Linked DNA regions of Homo sapiens: region 2 is linked to region 1. Evidence: fine-mapped expression QTL. A gene starts in region 1. The other region holds a variant in brackets. All regions are shown on one strand. Distances are from middle to middle.

Region 1 (5,389 bases):
TGTGGCTGAGGAAGCCTCACAATCATGGCTGAAGGCAAGGAGGAGCAAGTCATGTCTTACATGGATGGCAGCAAGGAAAGAGAGAGCTTGTGTAGGGAAACTCCCATTTTTAAAACCATCAGATCCCATGAGACTCATTCACTATCATGAGAACAGCACAGGAAAGACCTGTCCCCATAATTCAATCACCTCTCACCAGGCTCCTCCCATGACACATGGGGATTGTGGGAGTTACAATTCAAGATGTGATTTGGGTAGGGACACAGCCAAACCATATCAGTTATCTTTGTATTTATAGCACAATTATTTGCTCACAGAATTAATGAATGTACACCATAATTCTGCATGGGTCAATAACTCCACTACACTGATTACTCAGTTAATTGATGTTTCTAAAATGTACATTTTTTTCTAGATTTTACAGTAATATATTTTAAGGACTTTCTTTTTAAACTGATTTCAATATATGGATATTTTCCTTCATTAAAAATTTGCTCAGCAGCAGCCAGTCTGACTTGGGATATTTATCTTGAAATTGATCCAATGAATATTCTCAATTTCAATAACTACTCTGGCAAGAAAAAGCATACAGAATTTCCTAAATCAATACAGTAGATCAGTGTCTGCAGCACAGCACAATTCGTACAGGCAATGCAGTGTTGTACCAAGTGTTTCCATTTCTCAATGCTAATCACTTTTGATTTGAAGATAAGCTGTCAAATGCCATTAATCTGTTTACCATATTCCACCCCCCCCAACCACAGAAGGCTTTATTTTCTCTTTTTCAAATAATTTCAGGAAACTTTTGTAGAGCAGGATGACTTCTTAAATAAGCAACTTTTAAATAGGTTTTAAATAGGTCATCATGAGTTAAGAGTAATAAAGAACAAATACCAAATTCATGAAGGGATTCTCTAAAGTTCTCTGTCCACTTTACTTTTTATCACTTTTCCAGTAAGATTCAGATTTCCCAATTCCTACTTTTAGGCTTAAATGTGCTTGAGAAGTCTCTATTTTTCTAAATTCCATCACCATTAAATGTTTTGATTCCCACTGCTACCACCCTATTTCAAATCCAGGCTTGAACTAGGAAGCTCTGAGACCAACTATGGAACCTGGGTAATTTCTCATATTCTCAAAGTTCCTTCACTTACAAAATGAAAACATTAAGATCTACGTATCAGGATCATGGTGAGTATAAATGAGTATGCATGAGAGAGCCTGGCACAGGGCCTGGCATCAAGCAGGTGCTAATCACCTCTAAGAAACTTTCCTCTTTTCTCTCTCCCTCCTCAGTCCTCCTTTCAGACTTCACAGCAAGACTCATTCTGAAAGGTGAATGTGATCTCCTTAGCCTCCTACTCAAATTCCTCCAAAAGTTCACCGTACCCTAGGACAGTGGTTCTCAAAGTGTAGTCCCCAGGCCAGCAGCACCTCTTGCGCTTGCCTTTCCAAAATTCCTCTAAGGAGAGTTTACTATCTTCCAAACCTGCCAACTCTCCCAACCCCAAGATTTAACTCATCTTTTACATCCTTCCCCCTCTATGATATCTCTCCTATACTACCCAGCTTAAAATCTTTCCTGACCATCCCAGTCTCTAGGACTTTTTCTGACCTCTAATTCCAATTATTTCTGAATACAAAGAGTCTTCATCTTACAATCGGGTCTGTGTCTGGATAAACCCACTGTAAAGTCAAAAAATCTTTAACTGAACCATTGTGTAAGTGTAGGACTGTACTAAGGTGAAAATCTGCAGAGGTCACAAACTAGTTGCACCTGGCCCACCCACAGAAGGTGTGTGTTAACTAAATTGGTTGCAAGTAACATTAAAAATCAAGAAAAAATACGTAAAAATACAGATCTTTGGCCTGTGTTGGAGAAAATCGGATCTGCGTTTGAGAGACCCCCATTCCCACATGGCAACAATCAGCTAAATGGTAAATGTTTCGAGCATTCACCAGCTCTTTCCATTCTAAATAAAGGTTTTCTTTTGACATCTTCAAATATCTCAAATGGTGATTTACATTTCTTATGGATATGTAACTTTTCATGCTTGTTTTGTCTCTCCTAATAGAATACAGCCCTTAAAAAACCTGTCCTTGTCTTTGACTTTTTAAAAACCTCTTGTTACCCTGAACACAAACCGGTATTTAGTGCAAAATTATTGTAAAAGAATATTCTGAACATTGTAGACAACAGCAAAATGCTGAATAATCCACACAGTTTTTCTGGAAACTTTTGGCTTTCTACCAAGTTGGAAAAGTTTTATTAGTTTATGTTTTCTAAACATATGGATTAGGGTACAACTCTTAAGACAGATAATAAAAAATTTTTATATTATTTTGGTTTAGGTCGTCTTTCATTTTCTAATGAGAAATACATATGAAGACAGCATGCCCTCTGCTGAAAGAGATTTAGACCCTGCCCGGCACGCCATGTGACGGAACCTAGATACTGTTTGTAACTTTTAGTTTGAATCCAACTTTTATATCCTGGATTTGATTTCCCAGAAAAGAGTTTCAATTTCACTCTTTGGTAGGAGTCATAGTGGCTTTCTCTGACGCGGCCTCAGGTTAACCATTTACCGGGTTTGGCAGCGACAAGGGAAGAGCCACCTTAACAAAGCTGCCTTGCTGTGGCTCAGAGATAACCTGAGAAACCTAACCAAGATGAGAATTTTAAAACACTGTTTACGTACAGGGCCTTTCTTTGTTAAAGCTTCCATTTGAACCCATTTGCCGACTCCTGCCTGTCCACACATATCCGCACCCCGAACATCAATATTAGGAGAATATTCGATAATACTCTCCTTTTCCTTCCCCCACCCCAAATCCTCCAGGGGGCGCCCCGGAGGACCGCGCTGGCCCCCCGGCGGGAGGGCGGCCGTAGGCGGGAGCCCAGTCCCGACTCCTGGACGCCGCGCGCACTCCCCATACTCACCCGCCCGAAGCCACGGAAGTGCCACCTGACCCCGCCCCTTCCGCCGGATCCTCCCACGCAGGCGCAGCGCCGACTGCAGGCGCGTGGGGCCCGGGGATCGCCTGGGGCTGGGTGGCGGTGCGGGGCATGGCCAGGGTCCCCGTGGACGTGGCCGCGCAGTTCCGGCGTGTGGCGGAGAGCGAGTGAGCGTGAAGGTCTCCCGGCCTGCAGCAGGCTGCGGAAGCTCTGCGCCGGGAAGTTCTCTGGCGGGGGAGGGGAGGGCGGTTTACGGCCTTTGGGGTAGGTTTTGCCCTTTTTAAGATCCACATGAAATCTTTCGCCTCCGAAGTTCGAGGGTAACTTTCGTTCCCTCCTGGCCTTCGCGACACCCTCGAGTCGGACGGAGGCCGAGTCGTGTCCTCACCCCCAGCAGCCTGCGGCGGCCGGGACCCCCGGAGGCCCTTCTTCCGCTCCTTGGAAACTTAAAATGTGGGGTGAGGGAGAGACGCGTTACGTTTGACAGACCGGTGAAATTAAAGACACTCAAGCTTCTCAGAGTGATTTGAAGAAATGCTCAGCGTTCTGCCGAAATATAGTTTTAAGTTTTTAAACCACGGCATGGTTTTTAAAGGCTGAAGGACCCACAGTTTTTTTCTCTTAAAGGGCACGCATTCATTTTGATTAATATTTCTTAACATGCAGCCAAAGCCAGGACTCGGGCTCACTGCTGCAGGGGTGTCCTCGGGAAGTCCCGAGGGGGGAAAGGCGCGCAAGCCTGAAATGGAGATGAAAATAAACAGGCATAATATTTGCTACCTCACTGCGTTGGGCGTAGTAGTAACTAATTCTTAAAAAACGTCTTAGATGACATATAAGTAGTAAAGCCGTTGTATGCTAATCTAGAATTTTTGAGAAAAACTTAATCACCCAAATGTTTGCTATAATGTGATGAAGATAGCATCCATCGGCAGTAGCCAGGATCAAATGACGAGTAGATATGGTTATAAATGGGGCCCATGCAGTATAATTAGTATATGAAACCAAGATGTCAGTCCTCACACAGAATTTGTGTAATGATATGCATTTGGGAGGCTTCAGGCCTTTTCAGCTATTTGATACAGGTTGATTCTTACTGAATACAGAATAATAAAAAATGAATTACTGGTCTCACCATTTTCATTATTACTATTTGGACCAAAAGACTACCACTTTTACTCCAAAGATTGATTGTAGACTCAATAGCCAATGACAGAAAATTAAGCACAAGTCTAAATGAAGCCGAGGATCTAGTAGAAAGAACACAGAATCAAACCTTTCAAATCTCAGCCTATCGAACACAAACAGATTGACAGTTCTTGAGACGGTTTACTTCCTTTCTTTAAACTTGGCGTTGCTCATCTGAACAATTGTTTCGGTAAGGGTTACGTTTGATGAAAGCTCAGTTTGTGCTACCTTAGAAGTGAAGAAGTTTGTTAATTTTAAAATTGAGTTTATCCTTACCTGCTTTTCGTTCTACAAACTCAAACACTTTCATGCATGTCACTTTTTTATTCAGAAGTTTTCTAAACAGTACAGCTTAGGGAACACATTTCCATGGAACATTAGTGTTTTGCAAAATGTTAATAGATTCTTCATGGGAAAAAAATTGCTAGCATCACCAATACTGGCGAAAATATGAACCTGTCATTATGAGGCTATGGGAAATACACTTTTGTAGAGCTCTTGCCAAAAATGTTTAACCTGAATCTGATTGTGAGGAAACACTGAGATAAATTCTGAATGTGATTTGTTCGGACTTTTCAATAAGGTTAATAAGGAAGACAATAAAAAAAGGCAGGAGGACTGATCTACATTAAAGACAGCTGTCAACTAGATAGCCTTAAGGATTTAAAAAATTTGAACCTGGGCTGGGCGCAGTGGTTCACGCCTGTAATCCCAGCACTTTGGGAGGCCGAGGCGGGTGGATCACCAGGTCAAGAGATCGAAACCATCCTGGCCAACATGGTGAAACCCTATGTCTACTAAAAATACAAAAATGAGCTGGGTGTGGTGGCACGTGCCTGTAGTCCTAGCTACTCCGGAGGCTGAGGCAGGAGAATCGCTTGAACCCGGGAGGCAGAGGTTGCAGTGAGCCGAGATTGCGCGACTGCACTCCAGCCTGGCGACAGAGACTCCAGTCTCAAAAAAACAAAACAACAACAACAACAAAAAAGTTGGTAGTTTCAGGTGAATAGTATATGAATGTTCTTTTAACTCATCTATAGATTTGAAAATTTTCAAAATAAATAGTTGAGGACAAATTGTAGCTAGCAATGCTGGAAACCCATTTCTGCCTCCCAGCAGGTGGCAGCAAATTAATACTCCATAACGTACAAGAAAATCATTGCAATTTCCTCGTCTTGGTAAATGTTTTGGATGTTGCAGACTGGCTTTTTTTAGGGATAGGAGCCAAAAGAATATTGTTGCCAG
Region 2 (5,389 bases), 33 kb before region 1:
TCTACAAAAATAGGCAATTGACAAGAGTGAGATTTTATTGCTGTGTCAAAGTAAATATACCAATATATATTCTGAGGTAATATACCTAGGATTACTAAGTGCATAGCAGAAATAAAACACTGATTCAAGGTCAAATTTTAAGCCCAGAGATTTATTTTAATTTAATTTATTTTATTTTAATTGCTCAGATGGTCAGGGGCATCATAGAGGACTTGTGACAAGGGCAATGCCAGGTAGGTTCCCCTGAGGACTGAGTGCCAGAAAATGAAGCTAGGTTGAGAAATAGCCTAATTCTCTCTGCCAAATTTGCCTGATTTAGCAAGTGGAAGAGCTGGGTATCTGACATCTGCATGTATATATGAGGTGAATCCAGACTCAATGCAGACAACATGATTGGGAAAAACTGGGATATGACAGTAAGATAAGTCATCATTGTCCTCATTATAATGATTACAGCTTATTCTTTAATAACATAGTGTCTGTCTACAGATAAAGATGACCACATCAATATTACTGCATCACTTATTACAGGATTAAAATTTTTTCCTTACTGAAAATGGCACCCAACAAACATAATGGGAATCAAATTCCAATATAGATAATCAAATCATTAACTGCTCCATAATCTTAATAAGGATGGTTCCTTTCAGAATGGATTTGCTATCACTTCCAAATGGCTCAAATCAAGTATTACAATCACATCTATCATCTCTGATCTAGTTTTTGACATCTAGTGGTTAAAGGATTATATTTAAAATCATGACTACACACTCCGTCTTTGTCATGATTTTTAAAACTATCATCTTCACATAGAAGCAAGATTGATTATATGTCTAGTTTGGGACTTATATCCTGTCTTCTAATGTACACAATCCATTCAGAGTGAAAGATACAGAATGCAAGCAAGCTTACCTTTGGTTTCCAGACTTGTGAACGTTTGCGGAGTAATTTCAGTGCACTCACATATTCCGCTTGTATCCTTCGAGCTGGCACAATCAAGTCTCCATCAGATTTAGTTACAGCTACCAGATCTGCCATCTCGATTATACCCCTTTTGATACCCTAAAGAGATCAGAAACATTTAATGACAACCAACATAAAAATGGGAAAACTAGTCAATGCTCAGATTTTGAAAGTCATACATTTCATTAACTTTTCATCCATATCCTCCTAAGCCCTGGATGCCAAGAATCACCATTACTTGACAGAAATTACTCAAAAGCATTGGCTATTGGAATTATAGAAGTCATCTGTAATATCTCTTCCAAATTTAGAGACTAACATGTTGAAATACATTCAGAATTAGGGTAAATACATCAAGTCACAACATGATTGAGTGGCAGGACAGTTCACATTATCTCGTGATGGAATGTGCTTCTCCTGAGCTAACACTGCAGGATGCAAAACCATTCATCATTAAGGTGCTTAAAAAGAAAACACCTATCCTTAACATCTGCATTTCCAGAAAAAAGTCTTTGAAATTTTCCTTAAATGTATATAGCATTTTATTTTCAATTTGCATTTGAGGAAAAAGAACCTGATGCCTAAAAATATGTCAATCTCTTTTTTTATTATTATTTATTTTTATACTTTGTATTTTTCTTATTTCAGCTTTGCGTGGACAAACCTCAATCTCTTAATTCAAATTATGTCACATAAAAATATTAGAAATAAAGGATGAAATCCAAAAGCCAAACCTTATTTAGTAAATACAGATTTTTCTACATAAGATTAAAATTTCTTTTCAAATATTTTTAAACAAAACATTCAATTATGAAATACTAATAGTTAATGTTTCTAAATAAGCAGCGATAGTCTGCAATCACTATGTTTTAGAATTATAAAATTGAAACAGAAGCATTGTATAACAAATAATTTGTCTGGGCTAGGTGTGGTGGCTCACACCAGTAATCCCAGCACTTAAGGAGGCTAAGGCAGAAGGATTGCCTGAGGTCAAGAGTTCAAGACCAACTCGGGCAACAAAGCAAGACTTCATCTGTAGAAAAAAAAATTAAAAAATTAGCCGAGAGTGGTTGCACATGGCTGTAGTCCCAGCTACCTGGGAGGCTGAGGCAGGAGGGTAGCTTGAGCCCAGGAGTTCAAGGTTACAGTGAGCTATGATCATGCCACTGCACTCCAGCCTGGGAAACAGAGTGAGACCCTGTCTCTGAAAAAAAAAAGGAAAAAATTTGTCTGGTTTTTGGGTTTCTGGGAGGTAATCTTTTAAGTTCTAAATTCCCAGAATTTCCTGAGTAACAGGAGTGTCTGTTATTCATGGGAGGTGCCTGGGGCTATACCTGGGTTTTTTTGTTGTTGTTGTTGTTTTGAGACAGAGTCTCACTCTGTCACCTAGGCTGGAGTGCAGTGGTGCGATCTTGGCTCA[C/G]TGCAAACTCTGCCTCCCGGGTTCAAGCCATTCTCCTGCCTCAGCCTCCCAAGTAGCTGGGACTACAGGCGCCTGCCACCATGCCCGGCTAATTTTTTTTGTATTTTTAGTAGAGACGGGGTTTCACCATGTTAGCCAGGATGGTCTCAATCTCCTGACCTCGTGATCCGCCCACCTCGGCCTCCCAAAGTGCTGGGATTACATGCGTGAGCCACTGCGCCCGGCCTATACCTGAGTTTATGCAATGAGATCACTCAGGATGGGAGACTGACCATGGCAGAAAGACTTATCATGTGATTAGAGGGTTGGGGTTTTATGCCATGTGATATCAACCCAACTTCCAGGGAGGGGACAGGGGCTAGAGATCAACTTCAATTATTCAGTCAATCATGCCTACATAATGAAACCCCAAGAAAAACTTGGGACACTAAAGCTCAGGGGAGCCTTCTGGTTGGTGATACACATCAATATGCCAGGAGAGAAATGTGTCTTGAGGACACAGAAGCTTTGCATTTCGGCCCTCCCAGGCTTCTTATGTGTGTCTTCATTTGGATGGTCCTGATTTGTCTCCTTTATAAGCACGCTGCAATTGTAATATAGTGCTTTCCTGAGTTCTCTGAGTCACTCTAGTGCAAGGGTCCCCAACCCCCAGGCCACGGAGGAACTGGGCCTCACAGCAGGGGGGCAGCAGGGGGGCGAGCATTACTGCCTAAGCTCTGTCCCGTTAGATCAGCAACAACATTTGATTCTCATAGGAGCACAAACTCTATTGTCAACTATGCATGCTAGGCATCTAGGTTGTGCACTCCTTATGATAATCTAATTGATGCCTGATGATCTGAGGTGGAACAGTTTCATCCTGAAACCATCCCCCCTTACCCCCAGTCTGTGGAAAACTGTCTTCCATGAAACCAGTTCCTGATGCCAAAAAGGTTGGGGACCACTGTTCTAGTGAATTACTAAACCTAAGGGATAATGGGAACCCTCAAATTTATAGCCCGTTGGTCAGAGGTATGGGTGGCCTGGGAACCCTGGAGCTTGCAGCTAGTAGTGTCTGCAGTGAGAGGAGGCTTGTGGAGGACTCTGCCCTCACCCTATAAAGTCTGCACTAACTTTAGGTAGTTGTGCCAGAACTGCGGTGCAGAGGAGAGTAAGAATCTCATTGTACAACATATAAACTATGATAGTGGGATCCCACTCTCCCCAGAACTTTTGAATCAACGTACTAACAACATCTATGCAACAATGGTCTCTACTGGCTGGAGCGATCCATGTATTTCAGTCATGTTACAGATGGAAAAATTAATGTTGCATAATTTTACATTCTCAAGGACACATATTCTATTCCTGTAAGTTAGGAAAAAATATAGAGAATCTGCCTTTGATTCAGGTATTTTAGCCAACATGAATGATATTTCATTTTCTAAACCATTATCAACTTAGTTTACAAAAACACAACATTGGAAATTTTTATTTTCAGAGATATACATTTTATATTTTTGGGGGAAAAAATAAAAATAATTACCTGCAGCTCATCTCCTCCTGCTGGTGGCAGTAGTAAAACAAACATGTCAACCATGTCAGCAACAGCAAACTCCGACTGACCCACACCTGAAATTGTAAATCACAACTATATCCTAAAATACTCACCATTATTTGACTTTCTCAACTACATTGACCATTTCCATTCTACTTCATTTACTCATACTCATGGTCACACAGTCAACCTGGTCACTCCTTTAAACATCTCACTTCTGAAGAATGTATTAAATGTCATATCTTACCCTCTAAGCAAACCCGTTATCCTTCCCAGCTCTCCCGCTCCGTTCTTGGATTGAATGGAGAACCTAAAGGCTTCCATCCTCTCCTCACTCTCACAGCTCTTTCTTGGCTTCCTTTTCATCAGCGAGCAGCTTGAACACTGTGACTCTAATCTTGAATCATGCCTACAAATACTTTCATCTTTTTTGTCTTCTTGTCCTCATACTTGCCTGCAAACGCCCAATTATGTATGGATCAATCCAACTATGTGTGTTCTCTCCTCCATAGGCACGTGAGAGAAATCACTCAACTCTGTGGACAAGAGCCACGACAGGCAGCCTCTGCTACATCTTCCTTACGGCCTGGCAAAAGCAATCTCCCTAAATGCCCTCGGTTGGCTTCCGTTCCATTTCCCACAGCAGCTATTATGAACATTCACTGTCCCATAATCTCCCCGCTTGATGAGGACTACAGCACCTACTTCACAGAGGAAATAAAGGCAAGAACTTCCTAGGCTTCTCCCTCTCCCGTACTCCACAGGTAACAAGACACAAATACAAACTCAGCCTTACTGCCTCCTCTGCAGTCTCAGTGTAATAAGAACTATTTGACTGAAAAGGAATCTCTCATTCCTTTCCACTTCCTCTGGGTCCTTGCTGATTATTATCTTTAACCTCTCATTTATCTACAGGCTCTTGCCCCCCGGCACAATACATAAATTGTGCTCAAATCTTTCTCATCTTAAAGCCACATAAAACAAAAACAACAACAACAAAATAACAAGACAAAAACTCACAAACTCCTCCAACTATCACCACGTTTCTCACTTTTATTAAAATACTCGTTTCTGGAAAAAGGTAATTTATGCTGACTCCTTCCACTTCACTTCATGTTCATCTCACCCCACTTAAAACTGTCTTCCAGCCCGGGTGATGTAGTGAGACCCTGTCTCTACAAAAAATACAAAAATTAGCTGGGCATGGTGGTATACCTGTAGTCCCAGCTACTTGGGAAGCTGAGGTGGAAGGACAGCTTGAACCTGAGCCTGGGAGGTTGAGGCTGCAGTGAGCTGTGATTGTACTGCTGTGCTCCCACCTGGGCAACATGGTGATACCCCACCTCAAAAAAAAATCTACTTCCACCAAAACTCTGGAAACTCTCTCCCTTTCTCGGTGTGATGGACTTCTAGTTGCCTATTTAATATTTATTCTTCCCTATTTTCTTATTCCAATGTTATTAGGAGTA

Direction of the effects. Positions count from the first base shown, and alleles are read on the strand shown. Sizes are in standard deviations (SD) of each study's normalised expression.
In carriers of allele C in region 2, the expression in prefrontal cortex of the gene that starts at base 2,964 in region 1 tends to be higher than with G alone (moderate effect, 0.49 SD a copy in CommonMind).

The links. PIP is the estimated chance that this variant, and not a neighbour inherited with it, causes the effect.
Region 2: its variant is the best candidate, but not a certain one, in a credible set for the expression of MMAA in prefrontal cortex (CommonMind, PIP 0.63).

Annotation. Positions count from the first base shown.
Region 1 is chr4:145,616,960-145,622,348 of GRCh38, reverse strand. MMAA (metabolism of cobalamin associated A) reads right to left here and starts at 2,964. Exons shown (of 7, transcript NM_172250.3): 1 at 2,942-2,964. RefSeq lists silencers at 2,596-2,665, 2,696-3,135.
Region 2 is chr4:145,649,667-145,655,055 of GRCh38, reverse strand. MMAA (metabolism of cobalamin associated A) reads right to left here. Exons shown (of 7, transcript NM_172250.3): 5 at 3,909-3,994; 6 at 913-1,062. Among named protein-coding and RNA genes, the nearest start is that of C4orf51, 28 kb to the left of the region's middle. The variant C/G (reference allele first, on the strand shown) is at 2,384.